4 linked regions of the Homo sapiens genome follow. The protein of the gene in region 3 purifies or fractionates together with the protein of the main gene of each other region. This does not show direct contact. Each region holds a gene or a part of one and is shown on either strand. Other genes may lie near its edges.

What was found.
Region 1: the proteins of SART3 (region 3) and NSA2 purify together in Homo sapiens (affinity purification with mass spectrometry; 2 studies listed by BioGRID and IntAct, with this or other methods). This does not show direct contact.
Region 2: the proteins of SART3 (region 3) and EIF3H purify together in Homo sapiens (affinity purification with mass spectrometry; 2 studies listed by BioGRID, with this or other methods). This does not show direct contact.
Region 4: the proteins of SART3 (region 3) and ACAD11 purify together in Homo sapiens (affinity purification with mass spectrometry; 2 studies listed by BioGRID and IntAct, with this or other methods). This does not show direct contact.

The regions. Positions count from the first base shown.
Region 1 is NC_000005.10:74,777,221-74,780,622, forward strand, and holds the end of NSA2 (ribosome biogenesis protein NSA2 homolog), read left to right. Parts: 3' UTR 1-2,893; downstream 2,894-3,402. UniProt on the Homo sapiens protein: Involved in the biogenesis of the 60S ribosomal subunit. May play a part in the quality control of pre-60S particles.
Region 2 is NC_000008.11:116,654,824-116,661,860, reverse strand, and holds part of EIF3H (eukaryotic translation initiation factor 3 subunit H), read left to right. Parts: intron 1-2,880; coding exon 2,881-3,048; intron 3,049-4,546; coding exon 4,547-4,646; intron 4,647-5,855; coding exon 5,856-6,005; intron 6,006-7,037.
Region 3 is NC_000012.12:108,530,137-108,537,173, reverse strand, and holds part of SART3 (spliceosome associated factor 3, U4/U6 recycling protein), read left to right. Parts: intron 1-388; coding exon 389-466; intron 467-601; coding exon 602-660; intron 661-1,705; coding exon 1,706-1,815; intron 1,816-4,839; coding exon 4,840-4,952; intron 4,953-5,893; coding exon 5,894-5,970; intron 5,971-6,863; coding exon 6,864-7,032; intron 7,033-7,037. UniProt on the Homo sapiens protein: U6 snRNP-binding protein that functions as a recycling factor of the splicing machinery. Promotes the initial reassembly of U4 and U6 snRNPs following their ejection from the spliceosome during its maturation.
Region 4 is NC_000003.12:132,656,773-132,664,717, reverse strand, and holds the start of ACAD11 (acyl-CoA dehydrogenase family member 11), read left to right. Parts: upstream 1-4,908; 5' UTR 4,909-4,966; coding exon 4,967-5,115; exon of another isoform or gene 5,116-5,221; intron 5,222-7,945. Other genes in the region: UBA5 (ubiquitin-like modifier-activating enzyme 5), read right to left, coding at 4,020-4,180. UniProt on the Homo sapiens protein: Acyl-CoA dehydrogenase, that exhibits maximal activity towards saturated C22-CoA.

The sequences.
Region 1 (3,402 bases), on a different chromosome or scaffold from region 3:
TTCATCTCATTTACCATGTATAATAATACCTACTTGGCACTATTTTCTACTTGAATCATGAAAATGAAAAAAATATACTAAAGTCTTTGTACTCTCTTAGCATTTTCTGTATTCTAAACAATATATTTATACTTTCAGAATAGTATTAAGAATTAGTTTAAGTAACTCCAGCTAAGTTTTAAAAGGAAAAAGAAGACTGCACTGATTCCCTGAGGAGAAATTTATTTGCAGTTACTTAGATGATGTAAAAAGGTAAGGATTTACGGTTGTAACTTGGTGAAAGCACTTTTGTGATCTGTTATATGTTGTGGTTTTAAGGATGGCGTATATTACATTAATCTATAATCACCACATTGTTTTAAATTGTTTATTTTTTTTTTAAAGAAGTCTGTCTTCAGAGTACAACCAATGTGATTAATTGTGCCTTTAACAAAGTCATTCAATGTCTAAACAAATTCAGTATCTGAAACATCTTCATGAGGAAAACTGAAGGAAAGGAATTTAAAAACACAGACCAGGAAACAATCACAAAATATAGGTTTAATTACTACTTTTAAACTTAAAAAAAAATAAAAACCAAGAAAACAAACATAGGTACTCCAGTAAGACTTGCTACTCTGAATAATGTAACATTTTTTCTAAGTTCTATAAATATATACTGGAAGTTTTAGAACACATACAGACGCTTAGGAAAAGAAAGGCTAGTTCCTTGGAAATGACGATCCAGGATGATACAATCACTTGATGACAGAAGGTAAGCCTTTCTTACAATTAGATTTTAGCAGATAATTTTACCACTAATATAAATGGGTGATGTGTGGATCACAAGTTCTAGAAGGCGAATAAAAATACTGACTCCAGGTAATTTCTGGATACTACAAAAATGAAGTTTGCTTGTTTTTTTTAGAACCAAAAATACTATCTTGTAAGGTACAAAGAAAGCTTGATATTAAGTATGAAAACATAAGCATAACATTTGTAACTAATCACACCCATGAAAGACGACTAGATGACACCTGAAACATTTTTCAAAATACTGTAACACAGATGAGTAATATTAGTATAAATTTTTTATGTACATTAAGATCTGTTTCAGTTTGCTGGTGTGACCAAACCTTAGAAGGTAATCCCAAGGGATAAAGCAGAACATAAGAGCAGATATTTAGATATTAGTACAGGCTCAATTTGATGCAATCATAAACCTTCAAGATTTCTAGTCACTGAAACCCCATTGTAGGTAGTGTTCTGGAGTCTGCTATAAGTAAATCTTTAATGACTAGATGTTTTCCTTACCATCTACACTGAATGGAAATACCATGAATATAGACACATTTTAAGTAGAAGACTGACGTTCTAAATCATGCTGTTTGATTTTATAAAAAAATCATAATAGACCCTCTCACCTTTAAAAGTTGTAGAGGAGCTTTATAATAAATTCTTAAATATACTAATTTCTGTGATGTCTAGCAATTGAATAATTTAAACTTGAAAGAACTAAAATACTAATAACCATCTGCTTTATATTACACAAGGAAATATACACGTATGTACATAAAAAGTGAACTCCCTTCACAAATAAGTTCACAAAGGACTATGTGTAATGTGACTGGACATTCAACAACTAGACTAGCCGGTTGAAATCACATTTTCAGTCCTCTGTAATTGTGAAATTTTTTCTAATGCCTTGCAAAAACTACAGATAACTGATTAAGTTCATGTAGGTTCCTTATTGAAGATAAATTGTGGTATAAATTCTATACTCAAGTTACTGAACATGAGAGTTAGGTTTTTCCAAGTGATCTAACTTTTCCCTCTATAATCTATAAACCCCAAAATAACAATTTCTGTCAGAGAGAATCTGTAACAGAAGTGTTCTTGTGTGCTGAACAAAAAACTTCTAAATTGTTTACAATTCACTTACTATTTAACCCAAACAAGTTTAACAAGAATAAGTTTATACTGTTAGCCCCCAATGGTCATATATGATTAATAAACATTTTTTGTAAACTCAACTATATTCACACATCAAGAGTTGAGCCAGTGAGCTCAATCTTTAAAAAACTACACTTGTCTAAAGAAAGTCTTTTAGTGCTCACTTCGGCAGCACATATACTAAAATTAGAACAATACAGGGAAAATTAGCATGGCCCCTGTGCAAGGATGACACAAATTCATGAAGCGTTTCCATGTTTAAAATAATTTGAAAAGAAAGTATTTTAAACAAATCCAAGTAAAAATAAAATATCTACAAGTGTTTTCAAATCTAAGAAATGAAACATGTAAAGATTAAGAATTTACTGAATCTTAACAGAGTATTTCCCTTTGTGATATTGACAGAAGTTTCTCATAAAATGTATAAAACAGCATAAATGTTTGGTAGATTCACTAATAGTAGTCATACTTTTTTTTTTTTACTTAGTATTAGCATTTGTTGAAAAAATAAATGGCCAAAGTGCTTTAATTTTCATTTAGAATGAAATAATCTGGCTTACCTTTGACTAATTAAAGAAAATATAGGGTAATACAATTGTTCAAAATCTAACACAAATAGGAGCGTTTACTATTTTTGTCTGCTTTAAGATTTTAACTTGATCGAAAATACCAACATCCCCAAACAAAATTTACTGACCTGACATCAGCTTACTATAGACTGAATACACTTTCAACATCAGTCCTTAGCTACCTCAAATAATGACACAAAGTCTTAGTTTCTTTTGCATAAGGATCAAGATCAAGCTATTTTTAAAACAATTTAAATGGTCTCAAAACATTCTCCAACTTAAGTGCAAATTTGAGTACACATAATATTTCCAAAGAGTAGAACTGTTTTTAGATTATCTTTGGATTCTAATAACCATTTTGTCCATTTTTAAATAAATTACAAAAAATAACAGTTCAGTGTTTTTTTTCTTCAAATTTTCCTAGGCCTTTGTTATGGCAACACAATATATACTTAACAGGCCAGCTTGCAACCAGTACTCAGTACAAATCAAAGGATGATTGAAGCCTCCAATATGATTGAAGCCCTTGTAACCACAGCTCCCCCAAAGGCAGTTTACCCCTGCCATATAGGTCTAACACTGGGGGCAGTTTTACTCCTGCCATATAGGTCTAACATTGTGGGGTGCACCTCCAAACCTACCCAAAAATGGACATCAAGGGCATAAGCCGGCAGGCAGGAAGATCTGTTGATTGGAGAATCACTCCATGAGTTACAGAAGTAGATGAAAGCTGTGGGGGAATATAAATAAGACTGTAGAATTAGGGAGGTGGCAAGATTTAAGGAGATGCCTTAGGAAGGAGCCTCATACTTCTGAAATATAGATGTTAACTGGGTTGGGATAAAAGTAAAATCTCCAGCTTAATTTATCTATCTGATCAGGACCAGAAGTCCAAATTAAA
Region 2 (7,037 bases), on a different chromosome or scaffold from region 3:
AACGTTTCATTTTCATTCTTACCCTTATCAGAGGTGCTGTAGAATAGGTAAGACTCTGGATAAAGAAGAAATTTGGAAGTTTGCTATGGATCTTGGAGTTTTTTACCTTGTGTATCCTGAAATGCTGTTAGAGAATCTCTTGTATTCAGGCTATTTGAGGACAGACTTAGCAAGATTACAGAATATTTTTCAGAGGAATGTATTTTTATTTTAAATCATAATGCATGCTGGAGGCCCCTTTAGCTAATAGAAAATTCTTTATTTATAATTAGTATGTCCAGTGAACAATGTGGAATAATAGCGTTTTGACTGGGATTGGGTTCTCAGATCTCTTTGGAGATGGGAAAATTAAATATCAAAGAAGAATTATTAACTGTACAGCAAGATCCCCACAGGGGAAATCTCAGAGCTGGCATGAGAACCTCGACCTCTAGATTCCAAGTCTTTCTTTTCTGCTATTATAAGTTGGCAGACTCCAACCTCTTCTTATATTGTAGCTAAATTTTATACTAATACGTTGCATAAGTTTTGATTTAAAAATAATGTTTTTTAAAATCTTACTCGTTCTGTCAGTTGCTTAATCTCTCCTCTTCCCTTTCCCTTTAAAATAAATAGCAAATTCAGTTTCAGCTCCCATTTTACTTATAATACTGGGACTTTTCACTCATAAATTAAATTTGATTAAAATTTATTAGCCAAATCAGTGATTTTACTTTGATTTAAAAGAATTATGGAATTTCGAAACAGAAGGAGATCATAGCAGTGATTCTATCCCACTTGCCAAATTTATGTGGTTGATGTGAATCTGTTAAACTAGCTGGGGGGAGGTGAGGTTCCTCTTACATGCTAGAGAAATAAAATATGAAGATAAAAAATAATTGGTGTAAGATTATCATATTTCATACTGCTTTTTCGGCTGTCATATTGTGTATAAAATAGGTTTCTAAGGTAGTGATGTTTTTAATGGTGGTTTAGAGTATAGCATAGGTTATATGACTTTGATTTTGTATTTTATTCATAAATATACAGAAACACTGGTTTGGTATACAAAGTGTCTGGTGTCTGGTATCTGGTGTCTGGTGTCTGGTATCACCTTCTCCCCCATACCCTTAGTAGCCTAACTTCCTCTATATTAACACTTTTTTTCCTTTTTATGAATAAATGAGCCCACTTTCAAAACAGGCACTTAAACTGTACATCTTTACAGTAGTGCAGTTTCCAGCTCTGTTGCAACATTGCCGTAGGCTTAAGAAAGTCTCTTCAGATAGTGGCAAAATAACTTTGGTTGTTTTTGTTTGTTTGTTTAGCTTTTCTACATAGCAAAAAAAAAATCTCAAAAAACACGCAATTCTTGTGTAGTTGATGAGTTGGCTGCCATCTTTTAGCATGAGAACTGTAACCTTCCTTGGAATAAGCAGATTTATAACTTCTTCTCCTACAAGTAATGAAAAATCAGACTGTGTCCATCTGAGGAACACTCTTTTATACTTTATGATCCTGAGTCTTGTAGGCTTTGTAAAACCATAGTGGTATAACCAAAAGAATGACAGATATATAACTTTTCTTTTGCTAAAACCTGAGTAAGAATTTTGAAAATGAAACAGGTTTCAAGTTAAGCAAATACGTTTACTCAGCATGGTCATGTATTCATTATAATAGAAATAGTTTGGGGCTGGATGCAGTGGCTCATGCCTGCAATCCCAACACTTTGGGAGGCCGAGGTGGGTGGATTCTTTGATCCTAGGAGTACGAGACCAGGCTGGGCAACATGGTGAAACCCCATCTCTACAAAAAAACAATACAAAAATTAGCCGGGTGCGGTGGTTCACACCTGTAGTCCCAGCTACTTGGGAGGCTAAATCAAAAGAATCACTTGAGCCCGGGAGGCAGAGGTTGCAGTGAGCCAAGATCAGGCCATTGTACTCCAGCCTGGGCAATGGGAGTGAAACCCTGTGTCAATAATAATAATAATAAATAATAATAGAAATAGCATGGCTATTATGTTGACTATAAAGTTTTCTCCTGTATTATATATTTGCTGTGCATTATTGTGCTATATTGCTTTTTAAAATGTCGTTTATTATATTGCTAGTTTTAATCTGTTTTTCTGGTAATACTGCTTTAATATAGTATACATTATAGTCATTACTATACTTTGTAGTCATTAATTTGACAAAAGTAAAAGTCACTAAACCTTTTCATTCTATACATGGTCATTAAAATATAACTTTATTCTAAGGAAAACATAGTATCTGTTACTTAAAGGAACACACAGACAAGAAAAAATAATTCTTTAAAAAATTTAGCATATGCAGCAGGGGGCACCAGATGAAGGCAAAAATGTACTCTTACATTTTGAATCAGCTACAGCCTGTATCCTCTTCATATATAAGCAGTGTGGTTGGTAGTTGTTTCTCCTTAGTTTTCCTAATGGTTTTAGTTTCTCAGCTCTAAAAGCTGTGTTGAAGAAGAGATTGATAACTCTTCCTCTTTTATTAATTCAAATGAAACTTCTTACAACCAACCAATTTAGTAATTACACAAATTTTTCTTAAACATTTACTATTTTGAGAGTTTCAAAAAGGGGAGTTAGACGCCACATTTAATAATTCTTTGGTTAGAACAAGGTATTAATATTGTGTGTAATACATTTTCTACAAAATATTTTTTCATTAAAGAATAAAAGGAAACCCCTGATGATTTAAAAGCCTAATTTTGTTTTGCTTTATATGTGAACTGAATGAATTTTAAATCTGGAATCCTGTTCCCTATTGCTAATAAATTGTTATGTAGACATTTGTTTCCAAAACGGCTTGTTTTTGATGTTGGTAACATCATTAAAAAGTTTTTTCTTTTAATTTCCTCTTCCCCATCATCCAGTCCAATATCAGATGGAAATGATGCGGAGCCTTCGCCATGTAAACATTGATCATCTTCACGTGGGCTGGTATCAGTCCACATACTATGGCTCATTCGTTACCCGGGCACTCCTGGACTCTCAGTTTAGTTACCAGCATGCCATTGAAGAATCTGTCGTTCTCATTTATGGTTAGTAGGAGGTTTATTATTCTTTTTTCCCTTAATATTATTACTACTATTTTTGCTTTCTGTCCTTTTTGCCTCTAAGAGCAGTCTGGCAGGCCTTCTCAAGTAAATACCAACCCTGTTTCTGCAGCAGCCTCAGCAGCAGCTCAGTCTAGACAGGGTTTCCTTCTTTCTGTTTATTTTTCTTGCTATCAGAGCCCTGATGTGTACATTTTGGAATGCTGGAGTAGCTGCTTCATTTCTATTCCTCCATCTCCCCTCCCTCATTGAAGGGGCTGGTGGAACTAGACCAGATGTCTAACAAACCCCGATTGCTAGAGTGTCTGGCTCTGTACGTGACTGACCAATCATAATACGGTGTGCCAAGTTTTTTTTATACCTCTGACAACAGCGTACAAAACCTGGACTGTTTCTTAGCACAAAGATTTTTTTCTTTTCGGCCTATTTAATGGTGTTTCCTCAAGCTCTCCAGACCAGATGTTCTGTGCTGTATCAGAACTGTAGGCAATTTAACAGCTTTATAGCCTTCCCCCTCCCCAAACACTCACAGTTTGCCATATCTGGCAGACTTGCATATAGTTTCCAGCTGAGAAGTAAATGTAACGTCCTGAGTATCTGTCAGAAAAAATACTAATGAATACGATCAATCTTATGAGCTGCCCCAAAATTGTTTCAGTATGTTAACAATTGGATTACAGTAAAGAACAAGTTGTTAAAGTATACTTATATTGGCTGGAAACATTGCATCATCAGACCTTGATGAATTTTCCACTTGTTTCAATCTATTTTGGTTTTCATTTTATCACCTATTGCTAAAAGTTTCACTGTGTTAAGTTTCAGACAACATGAATGTTAACACAGGTTTTAGGCGAATATTGGCATGCCAGAGCCGTTATCATGCAGCAAGTGCTAAGCTCCCTTACTCATGGAGTGTTTCAGCGGTTAGCTTTGACAAAATTAGTTTCTCCAAAACCAGAAAGACACTTTTGTGATAGCAGTTTGACTTGAATGGTTTTGTTTTTACAATCTGTTTTAACGAAGAAATGTGAACAGTGATTATTAGGATTGATAAATTTTGTGTGCGGGGCTATTCATTTTAAGTTGAATGAGGAGCTACCCAAGTACATGCAGTGAATTTTCATGTTTAATATTTATCAGTGATTTCCTAATTATACAATATGTCTAGAACATATGATACATTTAATTTTCAGCAAGGTTACTAGTTCTTGCTGAGGAATGAATTTGAAAATAACTCTTTTGCATCTTTAGTTTTTGACAGAGGAAATTACTCTATTGTAAGTAGGATAGAGGTATTCCTGCATTTTCAAGTGCTATTTGCAATAGTGCTTTGAGTCTGCTTCAAGTTGTGTTCTGGTTGTTTATTTTGATCTTTATTTTGCAAAGATTGTGCGATATGTAACAGAATGTGCCTAGAACCAATGCCATTCAAGCCTGGCAGTGACAAAATTCTTAGTAATTTATTTCTCTTTCCTTGTTTGAGATCCCATAAAAACTGCCCAAGGATCTCTCTCACTAAAGGCATACAGACTGACTCCTAAACTGATGGAAGTTTGTAAAGAAAAGGATTTTTCCCCTGAAGCGTAAGTGTTTGGGGGCATCTGGTAAAGGGTTGGGTATTTTTCTGTTAAGATTTTTCTTTGCCACATCTCTTGAATCCTTGGTTGTGGTGTGGTAATGCTTTTGCCATGTGGACTGTAGAAGTTTTCTGCATGCCGAGTGCTGCTTGCTCTCTCCCTTTCCATGTTTAAATTATTCTTTAGGGAATATCTCATCTGTTGTTCTCACCAAGGGTGAATTCAGTTAGAATGGGAATTAATTAGCTACTGGATTCGAAGAAATAAATGATTGAATAAAGGGAGGTGGAAAGAGTGATCAGTGGCTGTCAGATTGTAAGCTCTGTGTCAGACTGGTTGTGAGCTGTGTGTCTTATTTTCCGAACCCTTGTTTAATGAGGGGGTGGGAAAGATATAAACATTTTAAGAATTTGGTAAAGAATGTGGCTTATTGGAAATTTTATGGGTGACAGTTATGCAGAGAATTAACTGATGGAGCTGTTTTGGGATCCTATTTAATGGCATTGTAATATTTACTTTAAATAAATTAAATACTTAGAATTCTTCCATTTTCTGTTAATTATAGAAATTTTTAGTTCTTATTGAATCAAAATTAATGGTTTTGACTTCATGTAGGACGGTTCTTCTCTAGTTTCCCATTTGGCTCCTAAAAAGTTAAGGTGCAGAGAATTTTAAAAGAAAAGCTAACTCATGAACAATTCCTGGATGTGGTGGTTATAACTAATCTATGAGAAACTGTGTTCTTGGCATGTTCTAACTATTGTATCTGGAGTCTCCTTGTGTTCTGCTACTTGTTAAACTCTAATTCAAGAGGCTTTTTAAATGAACTTTTCAAGAAATAGAGTATTTCTCATTTCTAGCTATTTTAAATTAAGTTGTAGGTGTAGGTTGTGTAGCATAACTTACTGTGACATTTACATTTTAGTATCAGTGAAATTTTAAAGATACCTGATAACAAAGAATGAGTAGTTTCTTCTGCCAAGAATCTCATTTTCTGGGCTTTAGCTCAAATTCGCATCATTTTCAAAGTTACTCAAATCACTCAACTTATGCTTGACTCTGTAAAACTCCAGTTTCTCTACTTTTTTTTTTTTTAAGAGTGCTAATGAAACAAAGATCTTGGATAGGGCCTGTAATTAGGTAAATTTTATGAAGTAGTCAGTTTAGCACTTACTTTTGACCATCAGACTAAAGTATTTTTAACATGCTTCACAGATTGAAAAAAGCAAATATCACCTTTGAGTACATGTTTGAAGAAGTGCCGATTGTAATTAAAAATTCACATCTGATCAATGTCCTAATGTGGGAACTTGAAAAGAAGTCAGCTGTTGCAGATAAACATGAATTGCTCAGCCTTGCCAGCAGGTAAGTGGCCCTGCCTAATGAAAAGCCCATGTTTTAGAACTTTTTGCAAAAGATTCTTTCACATAAACTTTACCTGTGAAACAAGAAAACAGTTACTTAAGAACGTTTATAGGTTCTTAAAACATGTATAACATGGAGTAATAGTCTGGCCCTGTTAGGATGTCAGGGAAAAACGCCAAACTGATAACATGAAACAACACATTATTTGAATACTAATTGCTCATATTAGAAGAACCCTCTGCTGCCTTCTTTGCTGTATCATTTGTGCTTTGATAAGGTCAGTGCCCAAGAGGGAGGGCTTTTTTATATGGCTCAGCTTTATTTCTTGTACACGATCCTAAGAGGCTTAGGGTATTAGGTCTGGATATTTAATAATGCTCAGGAAAAGAACAGAAATGCTTTTTTCTTTTACTGGTTGTACTTACCCTTGTTCAGATGCAGACTCTTGCAGTTGTAAAATTACAGTTGTTTGAGTTTTCAACTAAAATTTGAATTTTCTGAACCTGACATTGGCTTCACCTATTTTAGTTGGTGATAACGATTTCCTCCACCGTGACTGCCTTAGCTATCTAGTTGCTGAGATAATGTTTATTATATTTGTAAAATGCAGATTGAGGTTTCCAAAAGGAAGTATTGTTCCCTTTGTTAAATTAATGTTTATTTCCCCCTCATCTATTACTCTTAACAGAAATGTGAATAGAGCCACATGTATAGCTCCTCTTAAATGCCCTTTGAGCGTTATGTTAGTGATTATTTTGTCTGTGGTGGAAGGAGGCTAGCAGCAGACTTGTGGAATGAAATTAAATGGTCAGAGTAGGTAAAGAATCAATATATGCTTGTTGGCTGAAAGAAACAAGGTGTGTTTTCTTAAGCAACCAGTTTGGAGCAGACTAAATTATTTATCAGATTTCTAGTTATCTTAGATAGAGACTTGTTAAAAAAAAAAAAGTGTACAGACTTTGTACTTCCTCGATATAAGGCAAGTGGGATGAACCCAGAAGGGCCAGAGACATCAATGTTCTTCTCTATGCT
Region 3 (7,037 bases):
TACCTCTGTGGGATCCTTTGCCCCTTCATGTCCCCCCGAAAACAACCAGAAAACCCCTAACTTGTACTTGCACACTCATGTCAGCTGTCACCTCATACAGGTAGCCTTTAGCCATTCTCTTGTTTGCCTGTGTCACCCCAGCTGGGGGAGACTCCCCCCCACAGCACCCTGTGTTTGCCTTTTTCACCACGCTGTCCATGCTCTATTCTGTTCAAATTTCTTTCTCCCCAACTATGTGATGAGGGCAGGAATTGGCAATTTTATTTCTGTGTCCCTTGCATGATGCCAGGTACATAGTGGGTCTCCAGGCAGTTTCAGCATAGGATAAAAAATAAAACAAAGCCAGGCTATGTGGTTTCCTAAAGCCTTTTTTTGCACTTTCCGTTAGACTCCAGTAAAGAGCTGGAGGAGTTGAGGGCCGCCTTTACTCGTGCCTTGGAGTATCTGAAGCAGGAGGTGGAAGAGCGTAAGTATGCCCCAGCCTGTGGTTTTGCCCAGTTGTATTTCCTTGTCTGTACTATTTCCTGGTTGATGTACCTTTTCAGCCAGCGACTATCTGTCTCCAAGTTCCTTTCTAATTTTACTAATTCTGTTTTTGAAGGTTTCAATGAGAGTGGTGATCCAAGCTGCGTGATTATGCAGAACTGGGCTAGGATTGAGGTAAATGTTTTTGACACATCTAGCACTTTCATCCATCATTGTTTAATAGCATCCTATTAAACTTTAATTAAAATTGAGTCAGAATCCCAGATAATGGCCTAAGCTCTATAAGGATTTATGTTATTACCTAGGTAATGGTCTAGGCTCCACAAGGATTCATGTTATTTACCTAGCTTGACATATATTTGTAAATATGTTGGTGAAAATATTAGCTCCCAGCTAGAAGTTGTGCAGTAAATGTTTAGATGCTAGGTATTCACTCGTTTACTTCTGTCTCTGCCTCTTTGCTTCATTTGTGAGAGCACAGTGAGCGTGTACTGTTTGTCAGCACTGTACTAGGTGCTGTGGGAATAAGACAGATAAAATTCCTTTGCTAGTAAGGCTTCTATCTAATGTAGAAGACAGATGATTTGACAAGTAATTAGAGGATATGATGACTTGAATGTCATTACTGGGTCAGGGACACCAAGGTCAGTAAGACACGGAACCTCCCTTGATCAGCAGGTAGGATTGTAACAATTCTAATCATGTTTTCTCCTCGGAGGGAGCGTCAGATAGAAGAAACTAACATTTGTCAGGTAGTTTTTATATGGGATGCTTATCTTTTAACCATTTTAAAGATGAGAAAACTGAGAATTACAGGTTAAGTAATTTGCCCAAGTCACAGTTTGTAAGTATTAGTAGCAGAGTGTGCATTTAATACTAGATCAGTCTTTTTTTTTTTTTTAACATTGTCTCTCAAACACTTGTAGTTAAGCTTGATAAAAATAAAAAACGTGACTATCTAGTACTGTCGAGTAAGTACCGTGCGCTCCCTCTCTCGGTTCTCAGGAAACATAGGTAGATTAGCTTGTGGCTGCAGAAAGGCTCAAGTGTTTGGGCTGGGTCGTTTACCACTGGAGGGAGGCCTGGGGAATGCCCAGGGACATCTGTAACACTAATAGTTGTGGGGTGCTTTTTATGTGTGTCTGTTGGAAGTGTGTTGTATGATGGGTGTCGACGTCATAAGGTTCAGGTCTCCTAACAGCCTGCTGATGCACTTTAGGCTCGACTGTGCAATAACATGCAGAAAGCTCGGGAACTCTGGGATAGCATCATGACCAGAGGAAATGCCAAGTACGCCAACATGTGGCTAGAGTATTACAACCTGGAAAGGTAACTGATCTCGGGGTGGGGAGGGAGGCAGTGCTTGTCAGCTGTGCACCTGTCTTCACTCCTGGCTGACTCCTACCAGCTTGGACTAGCTCCTTAGAACTGGGCTGTTTTCTTTCATTCTGTCTCTTTCAGTAGTGGGTACATTTTTAATGGGCAGGGCTAGAGAACCAGACATGATATTTTGTGCCTGGAACTCTTATAGCCATGCATTTCTTTTAATTTGTTTTTGTCTTGATTTTTGGGCATGATATTTTATTTGACCTTTTGGAGCTATTTGTTTTTTATATTTGCTTTTATAGAAAAGTAGAAAATACTAAAAAGCTAAGAGAAAAAAAACTCAAATTACTGACCCAGTCATAACCATGACCCATTCTTTGAGACTTTTCTATGTTTAAATTTTTTTGTAATGAAAATGCAATTATAGCATGCATGTGTTACAAGCCTTTAAAACTATTTGAACGAAATAAGATAGGCCTAACAATATTTATAACATGGGGAAAACATAAAGAATGTGACCAACTTTTCAGTCTGTCTTGAACGTTGTTCATTGCATAACATTGCTACATTGCTGGGTTTTCTTTTTTGAAGATTTTTTCCCTATTTAAAAAACACTGTGTGCCCAAATTAGAATATTTACAAAAATATGTGATAGAAAGCGACAGTTTCTTTTCTTTTTTCGGGGGAGGTGGGGAGTCTCACTCTGTTGCCCAGGCTGAAGTGCAGTGGTGCAGTCTCAGCTGCAACCTTGCCTCCTGGGTTCGAGCAATTCTTCTGCCTCAGCCTCTTGAGTAGCTGGGATTACAGGCGTGCACCACCACACCTGGCTAATTTTTGGATTTTTTTTTTTTTTTAGAAGAGGCACAGTTTCACCATGTAGGTCATGCTGACCTCAAGTGATCCTCCTACCTCGGCCTCCCAAAGTGTAGGAATTACAGGCATGAGCCACCATATCCGGCTAAACGTGACAGTTTCTTACAATCCCACCCCAGAGATAACCACTGTTAAAGCTTGTTGAATATCCCCCTAGATCTGCAGTTCACAATTTTTTTGGTCTCAGGATCCATTTTCCACTCTTAAAATTGGAGGATCCCAAAAAACTTTTATGTATGTGAGTTATATCTATTGATATTTATAATTTATAAATTGAGAAATCTAAAAAACATTTTAATTTATTTAAATATAACAAATTATCTAACATTAATATCTTTTTTGAGCAGTGACTGTTTTCCAGACCCCAAAATAATATAGTGAGAAAAGTGGCAGTGTTTTCTATTTTTGCAAATATATTTATTTGCACATTATTCTGACCTAGGAGAAGACAGCTAAATTCTCATGTCTGTTACTGATTCTGTCTGTTGTGATCTGTTGTTTTCATTGAAGAGGTTAGGAAAGAAAGGTATTTTAGAAGCATTTTCAGATAATTGTGGGTATTCTTCTTTCATACATATTATAGCAAAACTTCAGTGTTGCATGTGGAATCTGAAACCATATTGACAGAGTCTGTTACAGTAATACCCATTTGTCTATTTTATCTTTTACTTGATGCCACAATTCTACGACATTATTTGGAAAAATCCCAATTCACTAAATCATGCAGCTCTTCCAATGTTGACATATTTCATCCTATAGTATTAAAAAATCGTATTTGTTCATATCTGTATTGATCTTAGTTGAAAAGTATTTTAAGTAGGAAGCTGTCAGACTTGTGGTGGCAGATACAAGTTTTCCAAAATTCTAATTTTCACTTGAAAGCTTGAATTCTATCACATGCAACAAATAATGTCAGTGGTTTTCCCCAGAGTGGCAGCCTCACTTTGTTAATTTTCAAAAATGTCTGCCAAATACCCAGGTCTGAGTAACTGACCGTGGTTTGTCACTCAAGTTTCCTTTCAAGTAAAAATGGTGTCCTTGAAAAAAATGACTTGATTAGCTTGCAACTCAAACAGTAATATGCTTTTTTTTTTTTTTTTGGCAATAACCATTGTACTTCAGTATGCAGAAGGGCTTTAAGTGTACTTAGTATTTCATCACACAGTGCATTAAAAAGATTTCTACTGCCTTGATTTGTGCTAAGGGCCACCATTACTTGTGCACTGTCTTGAAGATGTCAACACAGTGAAAAAGTCCAGTAATGTCTTGGTATTATTATAAAAGGAGTTTTGACTTTGCAGGGCCCCTGAGAGGCTCTGGGAGATCCTCAGGGGTACGTGGATCTTACTTTGAGAACCAGTGCTCTGAATTTATTCTGAGCATCATAATATGTATATATAATTATGTATATTTAAAATGTTTTAAAAACAAATATGAATACACTGTTGCATAACAGTTATGATTAGCAGAATTGTGTAGCTGTTGTGATTAGCAGTGTACAAAAAGGATCTGTTTGCGACCAGCCTTGCCAACCTGGTGAAAACCTGTCTCTATTAGAAATACAAAAATTAGCTGGGTGTAGTGGTGGGCACCTGTAATCCCAGCTACTCAGGAGGCTGAAGCAGGAGAATTGCCTGAACCTGGGAGACAGAGGTTGGAGTGAGCCGAGATCGTGCTATTGCACTCCCACCTGGGTGACAAGAGCGAGACTCCCTTTCAAAAAAAAAAAAAAGATCTGACTCTGGGTATGAAATTTGACACTACCCTGGATTCATAACTCTCCTGTCAGTAGGACGCCATAGTAAAATTTCCCTGGGGACTGTATCAGGTTACAGAGAGCTGTTGGACTCCCCCGCCATGTGCCGCACATGTGAATGCTGTAAAGGCAGAATGCTGGTTGCAGATCACAATATCAGGTACACTTTCCAGTAGCCCCTACATGGCTGAGGGAGAGAGTGCTTCAGGGAAATACTTCGTAGGTGACTGTAGAGACTCTGGAAGGAGAAAGCATCATGGATAGATCTGAAAGCTAAGGTCTTCTCAGAAGCTAGAGTTACTGAAGAGTGAGTTTCTACCTGGGAGAAGACGGCCTCTCCCTTCGAGTGCCTTCCACTTTGTGTCCTGGTGGCAGCAACTTTTTGTTTTCTGCCTTAGAGCTCATGGTGACACCCAGCACTGCCGGAAGGCTCTGCACCGGGCCGTCCAGTGCACCAGTGACTACCCAGAGCACGTCTGCGAAGTGTTACTCACCATGGAGAGGACAGAAGGTGGGACCCCCAGCTCTCTTCTGGCTTGGAGCCTAACCCATTTGCTGTTTGGTCTCAAGTAGGAGCATCTGGTTACAGTCTGGGGACAGACTGTGTTTATGCTGCCACCTTAGGTGGTGCCCTATGATTAGACTGTCACAAGTGTCCTGAAAATGAGTCCTCCTGCAGCTCTTCTCAAATTCTGCAGCTACAAGGAGGACTCTGTGATGTCACTGTAGCACAGGGTTCTAATTCTCTGTGGGGGGGACTGTGCGTTATACAATGTTTAGGGGCATCCCTGGCTTCTAGCCCTGAAATGCCAGTAGCAGCTTCACCACCACAACCAAACATGACAACCAGAAATGTCTCTTAACATTGCCAAATGTCTCTTGATGGGCAGGATCCCTCCTTTGAGAGTCACTGTGCTCTAGTACAACATCTATCCAACAAAGGAGCTTGGAGAGGCAAATGGCTCAATGTGTCCTTTGCATCCCTTGTTAAATTTCAGAGCCTTCAGTGTTAGCTAGAACCAATAGAAAAATAATGTGAACTTATCTGTGGGTATTGGTCTGGATTTTGGGTATGGACCCCTCAGAACTGGCTTGCAAAGACCACCAAAAAATAAGAAATAAATGCCTCAACATTTGAGTAGCTCTTAAAATTCTTCAGTCTTAATATAAATGTACTTTTGCATTAGAACGTTCGTTTTCATATTCTTTGCCATTTAGAGCCCTTAATAGATCATATTCTGGTTTTCAAGTCTCTCCTGAAAGGAGAGGGACATTTTAAACCCACTTAGAAGGACTATTTGAATTCTGAACTTCAAGCCTACAGGGATTACATTTTCTTATTGTTTGATGGGAGAGATCTCTTCTGGAGGTACAGAGAAATTAAGAAAAATTTATGTGATTGTATCCTTCAAAATCCTAAAGAGTGAAAGTTTTGCTTCTCTTTCTTTCAAGGTTCTTTAGAAGATTGGGATATAGCTGTTCAGAAAACTGAAACCCGATTAGCTCGTGTCAATGAGCAGAGAATGAAGGTAATGACAATGTTTGAAGTCTTTGGCACCTCTGGTAGCTATTTTGGCTCAGTTTGGTATGGATGTTTCTTGTCAAGATGTTTTACATTTTCCTAAGTGTCTTTTACTCAGTATTAATTATAAAATATTTAGATCAATGCTTAAACCTGTCTTGTGTCATTTTTACATTGTTCTAAAACATCAGCCCCAATATTAAGTACTTGTTTCATTTAGTGAGGGAATTTTGGCTCTAAAATTTACGAGAATTGATGAAAAAGAATAAAGAAGAGCCTCACTTAGCCTAGTGAGTGGAACATGAACACCCCAACTTATTTAGGGCTTCAGTTTTATGGATTTTTTTTTTTTTGAGACGGAGTCTCGCTCTGTTGCCCAGGCTGGAGTGCAGTGGCATGATCTCGGCTCACTGCAAGCTCTGCCTCCCGGGTTCACGCCATTCTTCTGCCTCAGCTTCTCGAGTAGCTGGGACTACAGGTGCCCGCTACCACACCTAGCTAATTTTTTGTATTTTTTTAGTAGAGATGGGGTTTCACCATGTTAGCTAGGATGGTCTCGATCTCCTGACCTCGTGATCCACCCATCTCGGCCTCCCAAAGTGCTGGGATTACAGGCGTGAGCCACCGCGCCCGGCCAGTTTTATGGATTTTTTTGCCTTCCTTTTGGTGAGTAATGATTAGGGTGAGGAAATTGCTAATGTAACAGAGACATCAGATCCAGAATTCCAACGAACCTGAATGAGCCCTGGTGTGGAACAGCCGTGAGCCTGTCCACGTTTTTCTCCTGATCTCTGCTTTTCATTAGTAATGAATTTCCACTCCTTCTCCCCTTTCATGACAAATCAGTACAGTGAATGTAATTGCCACATCCAGCGATGCATCATCTTCCCACTTTTCTAGGCTGCAGAGAAGGAAGCAGCCCTTGTGCAGCAAGAAGAAGAAAAGGCTGAACAACGGAAAAGAGCTCGGGCTGAGAAGAAAGCGTTAAAAAAGAAGAAAAAGATCAGAGGCCCAGAGAAGCGCGGAGCAGATGAGGATGATGAGAAAGAGTGGGGCGATGATGAAGAAGGTAAG
Region 4 (7,945 bases), on a different chromosome or scaffold from region 3:
TCCACTGTTTCCTGTATGCTATAGCTCACTAGTTCTAAAGTGTCTATGGATCAACAACAGGACCACCTGAGAATTTAATAGAAATGCAATTTCTTAGGCCCTACCCTATAATCACCCACTGAATCAGAAATCTTGAATGTGGAGTCCAACAATTTGCTTTAACAAGCCCTCCAGTAATTCTGATGCACATGACAGTTTAAAACACTGTCATCAATTATTTTTAAACTTACTCTCTTGCTGTGGTTAGAAGAACATCTTCCAGTAGTTTTGCAAAGGGTACGGCAAAGGTAAATTTTGAGAACTTTCATTTCTGAAAATGTTCCTTATCAAAATTATATTCTTTATAAAAATGACAAAGCAAAGGGCATATAATTGTGGGAAGCTACACATATACTCTTAATCGATAGTTTAACTTGGTAAAGAAGTCTAAAGTTAGAATTGTCTTTCAACATTTTAAGGTATTGCTCCAGTGTCTCCTAGCTTGTAAAATTTCACAGTGTGCCTTAATGTGAATCTGTTCTCATCCCTTGTGCTGAGTTTTTAGTGGACTCTTTCAAAATGAAAACTCACATTTTCAGTTCTGGGAAATGTCCTTGAAGAATCTGGTTACTTCCTTGTTTGGTTTGTTTTTCCTGGACTATCTGGAACTCCTATTATTTGGAAGTTGAACCATCTGGATTTGTCCTTTATCTTCTTTCTCCAGTTATCTACTATTTTAGTTTTCTGCTCTATTCTCTGGATGATTTCTTTCAACTTTATTTTCCAACACTTCTATTAAGATTTTCATTTCTATTACCATCTCCATTTGCAAGAATTCCTGATCATCTAAATACTTTGCACCTTGTTCCTGTATCATTTGTACCATATCTTCTCTCATCTAAGGATACTAATGATAATTTAGGGGGATGTGTTTATCTTACATAGTCTATCCAAGTTGCTATTTTTATTTCTTTCATGTTAGAAGTTTCTTTCATCCTTTGTTCTGTTCATATTTAAGTGTGGGACACTAATAAAGGTAACAATATAGGCAATAACTGTTTGACTTTGGACTTCACTGTAGGGTCATCTGGCCAGACTATTTAGTTGAGAAACCCACAATGTCAGTGTCTTTCAGTCTTTCCTCTTGGCTCTATCAGATTCCCTAGAGAATAATCTTTCAAACTCCAACCTGAGTTGGAGTTCCAACCCCACGATCAGCTGTTGGAAGTGAAGAAGCAAGGCTGGGAGTCTCGACACTCAGTATGTAAGCATTTAGTTTACATTCAGTCACAGCATTCAGCATGTAAACAATCAGTTTACCCCTTCCTTCAGGTACAAAGACCTGCCCCAATTATTCTTGGAAATCTTCTATTTTACTCTTTCTAATGAAGAAATCTCTACTCTCCTCTTCTGGTAGGGAAGGAGTGTTTGCCCAGTTACCCACAGTGGAGTAGGGGATCTGGGGCTTTTGTTTCTTCAACAGATTTTCAACTGAAAGTTTTTTTTAGCCCTACCTGAAGTTCTGCAAGTACCTGTGCCTATTCCTGAGCCTTTTGGGGGATTCTTGCAATAAACTGGGTTGCGAGCTTAAGATTAAACTTCTCTGAATCTATTAAATCAGTTACCTTCACCCATCCCTTCTCTAGTTTCCAAATTGTTACTATAATCAAGTACAGGGACCCACCCCTCCCTATCAGTTATTAATACGAACCCTTTATATTTTCAATGGGAGTTTCTTTTAAAAAATTCCTTTACTGTCACTTTAGTGAGGTTGGGTAGAAAGTGATGGCAGATCCATCACAGGAATTTGCTATCCTTACCTTGATGCTCCCTTCAATCTTTAAATAATCTGAGAAGCATGGATGGCAACCCCCTTTTACAGATGAGGGAAACGGTTTGGGTTAATCAACTGCCCAAAATCAGCTAACTGGCAAGTGGTATTCTGAGCTGGGTTTCTGAGCCAGGATTTGATACCAGGTTTTCTAATCTCAAAGCCTCTCCAATTTTTCCACATGCTTATAACTATATTCCATAACACATAATTTTACGGTTACTTGTGTTTTTTAATATCCCACCTCCATGTAGTCTCTCAAACTGAAGCAAAAGTCAGGTGCTTTATATTTCTTTTGTATCTCTTGAAGCAATTAAAATGGTGTTGAACACATACATATCCCTTTCCTATAACCTTTTGTACTTTATCATAATTCAATAACCTGTACTTTATCAATAATAACACTGTACTTTATCATAATTCTTATCACCTGTACTGCAATGGCATGTTTACTTTTCTATTTATCTCACACTCATCTGGTAAGCTCTAGAGGGAAAAGACCATGTCTACTTTATATTCACAGTGTCTGCACACAATAAGTACTCAATACAAAGTAAATAATATTGTCAAGGAGGACTGGAGACAAAAATGTACTCAGTAAATATTTGCTGTATGAACAATTCAAAAAATTAAAGCTGAACTTTATTAAAATTCCATATATCAGTGAACAGCTTTGGGTATCAAACTGCCATCTCCTGTATAGCAATTTTAATAAAGTCAATGGTGCAAATCAGATAGAAAATACTACATATTTAGACTTGAGTTCTGAAAGTTTTGTTATAATTACAATGTCAAGGGATCATCTCATATTAAATAATGTCTGAAAGACAACTTAAATTCATGACCCATATTCCTCTGCTTTTCATTCTGGAGGGAAAATTTCAAAGTCTTCATTTGTAAAATTTTAAAATGTTTTAAAAATGTCAAATAGTTTCCACTTATTCTGATTAGAGATGTCAGTTCATGCTTATTTAATCTCTAAAAATTCTGGACCATTAACCGTTCATATTTGGCAACACAGTTAAAACAGTGCACCCTAAGACTTCTACTGCGGCTTTATATATCACAAACTAAAACCTTTTTTAAAAATCAAAACTGTTATGCTCTTTAAAGGAAAAAAGCAACAATAAAATCTTCCTTATCTACTTTAACACTATACAATTTTTAGCTACACGACTTAATTGTTTTTACTGGGGAGACGGTTCATGAGAATTTTACATTAAGACAAATCTAATGCAAGACAGGCCTTATTATTTACTACCAAGGCATGAACCTGAGGTGGCTCTCTAAGCCTCAATTTTCTCACTTATATAATGGGGGTAAAATAGTAGCAATCTCATAGGGTTTTGGTGGGAGGAGACAATGCATGTAAAGTGCTTACACAGTGAAAGCTCAATAACTGCTTGCTACTAAATGCACCTAGCAATAAAATCTTGTATAAGGCTTGCCATGTACAAGCGCTACTCTAAGACCTTTATACATACTGATTTTTTCAATCCCCACAACTATGACAGAGATAGATATTACTATTATCTTCATTGTACAGGTGAGAAGCTGAAGCGGAAAGTTTCACAACTTGCCAAAGGTTAGGCAGTTACGAAGAGAGTAGTTAGATTTGAATTGCAATCAGTCTGGCGGTAGAGTCCTTACCCTTAACCATTGCACTATATTCCATCTGCTGAATTGATAAGCTTTGTTAGGAAAGAAGAAAAGAGAGGCCTGGGCAGTCTTGGTAATGTCGAATGGTTTGAGATGTTAAGGAGCACCCGAATATCTCAGAATAGAGCTAACCCCGCTCTCCCCCGCCCCGACCCCATTTAAGATGCATTGATAAGCCTTTAATGAAACTCAAAGTTTACCTTAGCAGGTTTAATATTTGATCTCATCTTCTGAAAGTTCTTACTATCAGTCTTATACACAGCGAGGCGGACTAATTAAGAGGCAAGGGTGATAGGAAACTGGACACACGTCCTCAGCAGGCACAGGAGCAGCACCATATGGCTGACTCACTGGAGGTTTTTAAAAAAGAGAAAGAATATCTTCCGATCAGTACTAAGATGTGGCCTTGCCCATTTGGGAACAGGATTCGCAGACCAAGAAAAGGGTGGCGGGCGTCCCCATGAGCGGGACGTGGGAAGCGCCTCACTTCTGACCTCACGGAGCCTGACCTCGTCCCCCGCGCCTGCCTCCGACCGGCGACGCAGGTTACCTGTAGGGATTCGAATCCACCACCTCTGAGCTCATCTTCTCGATGCGGACCCGGCCGCCCCCTCCGTCGCCGCTCCTCGGGACCTGCAGACTCCTCTCCTGGGCAAGTTCCCGCTCCAGCTCCTGGACCCGCTGCTGCAGGCGCTCCACAGACTCCGCCATGGCTGGGACTCCGGCCGCCAACGCTCCCAGCCCGGGCCTTCGCCGCCGCCTTCGCCCCACGTTGCTCGGCTGGGCCCGCGAGGGGTACGTGGGGAGGCACCTCGCCGCTGCCTTCCTAGCCCAGAGCCCTGGGGACGTGCACCCAGCGCCTCACAGACAGACACGTCTCCGAGACTCCCACAGGCCTTCCTCGGAGCCGCTTCCGGTGCGTCGCAGACATCGCTCCCCCTCATCAAAAACCTGGCTCTTTCGGCTTCCTTCCTCGCTGGGCCGGCTAAACCCGGCCGCAGCAGCACCGGGGTGATAAGTGTCCAGGGCAGGAGGCCAGCGATGTTGCCTTGCTAACCGGGTATCTAAGAGAAACAGGGTCTTTTTATTCTTAGGCTCGACAGTCTGACGGCCCTTTTTCTGAACGGGACCCTGCAGGTCTTCCGCCTGCTGTTGCATTAAATTTGGGGGTGGAAGAGGCTTCTGCGTTGTTCCTTACCCGCAACGATGACCATGGCTTTGCCTTCTTTAAAATTGAGGCCTCCAACTCTGACGCTGACTGGAGAATTGAAACCCGAACACACATTGGGCTCTTTTGGCACTTGACTAGAGCTAAAACCTCGGGATTCAGCGGGCAAGCGTTGCTCAGCAACGGCGCGTAGGCTGTGTGCGGTTGGCTGGAGCCAGACCCCACCCCGGCCTCGGCCCATGCTCTAGAGGGGACGTTGCCCCAATCCTGAAGGACTTCGGCACTCGAGACCTGTGGATGCCGCGTTGCTGTGGCCTGCGGGGGTGATCATGAAGCCAGGTGCTACTGGCGAGTCCGATTTGGCCGAAGTGCTGCCCCAGCACAAGTTCGACAGCAAGTCCCTGGAGGCCTACCTAAACCAGCACTTGTCTGGCTTTGGGGCCGAACGTGAGGCTACGCTGACCATTGCCCAGTACAGGTATGGATGTCAGCCTTTGCCTCCAGCGGAAAAAAATTTGTACATTGAGTTTTCCTTCCTTTGGCCCTGGGTGGTTTCCTAAGTTTCTCCCACCCTGATTGCTTTTCCTGCAGTCAGTGGACGCACCCTACAGGCATGAGCTGCTATTGCCGGCCCTCCGAATTCGATGCTGGGGGCTTCCCAATTGGAGGGCGGTAATGGAAGCGCAATAACGTTCACCATTCTACTATCCAAAGGAATCTTTGTTAAAGGATGGATTTATGTCCCTTGAGGATTCACCAAGGCAATTAAGGCTACAAATTCTGAGAAATAGATGCCTTCTTTTGTGATACAGCCATTAGATCTTTTTCTGAGAAGCTGGTGTAATTCCGTTTGATTGGCCGTATTCCGGGAGGCTGAGTTAATGACACCAGATGGAGGATCCGAATTCGAGTACTAGCTTTTCCACTTAGGAGGTCACAGCACCACTTTGGGCCTCAGGTTTTTTGAAGTGAGGTAATGGAACTGAGTGAGAGGATCCTGAGAGTAGCGTTCCCCACCGGGAATCTGGCTTTAGTCTGATGTTTTACAATAGATAATACATTCTTAAAACTTTATTCTAAAAATAACATTGTTACTAATACAGGGCTACAGAAAGAGTCCTATCATTCAGAAAACTGGATCTGTCACTTGCTGTCTGGGAGTTTAAATATGTTACATAAACACTCTGAGAACTAGTTTCCTAAGTTGTAATACCTATTTTGATTAGTCTTATTAATGAAATGAAATACCGTAATATAGGTGAAAGGGCGTAAAAATTGCAACAACATAGTGTGCTAGTGGTATTTTATCACTAGCATTTATATTCTTTGACTACTGATTTTGGTGAAAATGAAAATAATAATAAATGAGATGGATCAGGGAACATTTTAGGGTGTAGAATTTAAAGGTCCCATGTCCCAATAGATATTGGAAGATGAAGGGAAAGGTGGAATAAAGAATAGCTGAGATTTCTAGGCTAGAAGCCTTGTGTTGTAACAAACTGAAACAGATCAAAGTTCAAATTTCAACTATTTCAATTGCTGTGGAATTTGGACAAGTTACCCTTTGAACATCTAGTCCTGCTTTGGCAAAAAGGAGATAGTAACGTTCATATTGTAGGAGTGTTGAAGAGGTACATAACTGAAAGATACTTAATTCTGAACCAAGCTGAATGTTAAACCATAACCGTGTTCAAAAAATGAAATTAGTTGTAAATTAGTTGTGGTATAAAAATTGCTTCCAGAAATGTTGTATAAGCTTGGTTTAATAAATATATATGGAACTCTGGATCCCACAGAGAACACACATTCATTTCTAGGACACATGAAAAAGTTTATAAAAATTGAAAACACATAGGCCATGAAGGAAGTCTCAGAAACTCAAAAGAATCAATCTTTATATTTTGAAAATGTGTGTTTTGGCCAGGTGCAGTGACTCACACTTGTAATCCCAGCACTTTGGGAGGCCGAGGCACGTGGATCACTTGAGGTCAGGAGTTCAAGACCAGCCTGGCCAACATGGTGAAACCCCCATCTCTACTAAAGATACAAAAATTAGCCGGGCGTGGTGGCACGTGCCTGTAGTCCCAGCTACTTGGGATGCTGAGGCAGGAGAATCGCTTGAACCAGGAGAGGGAGGTTGCAGTGAGCCAAGATTGCACCACCATGCTCCAGCCTAGGTGACAGAGTGAGACTCAAAAAAAAAAAAAAAAAAAAGGAATATGTGTTTTTTTAATACCAAAAGTTTAACAGAAGATAGCTAACAAATACATGTTTATAAATTAAGTGATTCATGGATTAAAGAGCCAATAATCTACATAGACAGTAAAAGACTATCAAAGTTCAGTGTACAGAAATCAACTGCATTTCTCTACTTTAGCAACAGTTAAAATGTAATTTTCAAAAACTTACAGGAGCATCAAAAATATAAATTACCTAAGTAAAAGATGTGCAATACCTTTGTAGAGAAATGATAAAACTTTTATTAGGACCTTAAAAAGAATTTTAAAAATTGAGAGATGCCATGTTGTTGAATAGGAATATTCAATATTGCAAACTTTTTTCTTCCAGTTGATCTATTGATTCAAAGCAATGACAATCAAAATCCTAATTTTTTTCTCTAATTTGAAAAAGTGCTCCTAAATTTTATGTGTAAGAGCGAAGGGCTAAGGATAGCAGAAACATTTTTAAAGAACCACAAGGTGGGAAATTTGAGTTAAGATGGTATGATATTAGCACAGAGATAGACAGACCAATAAAATAGAACAGAGAGTTCACAGAAAGACCCACATATTTATAGAAGTTTGATAAGTGACAATGTTGGCACTGAGAGTCAGTGGGGGGAAAAGAAGAACTTTTCAAGAAGTTATACTGGAATAATTGTTATCTGTATGAAGAAATAGAAATTAGACTCTTTATCTCACACAGTTCCAGGTAGATAAAAGAACTGAATGTTAAACTATAAATGTTTGGAAGATGTGTAAGTTATATTTTTGACTTTAGAGAAGAAAATATTTTAAAGACAACAGCAGAAACCACAAAGGAAATGACTGATAAATTTTCATTAAAAGACTTAAAGTGAAAAGACAGAAGAAAATATTTTCAGTGCATATAATGGTTAAAATATTCAGAATATAACTATAATAGCTCACCAGAAAAATGGGCGAAAACTTGATGATGCTCAACTTTATTATACTGTAGTAATAAGGGAAATGCAAATTAAAAAAAAAAAAACAACACAATGAGAAACCATTTCACACCACCAAATTGACTTTTAAAAAATCTGACAATAGACTGGGTGCAGTGGCTCA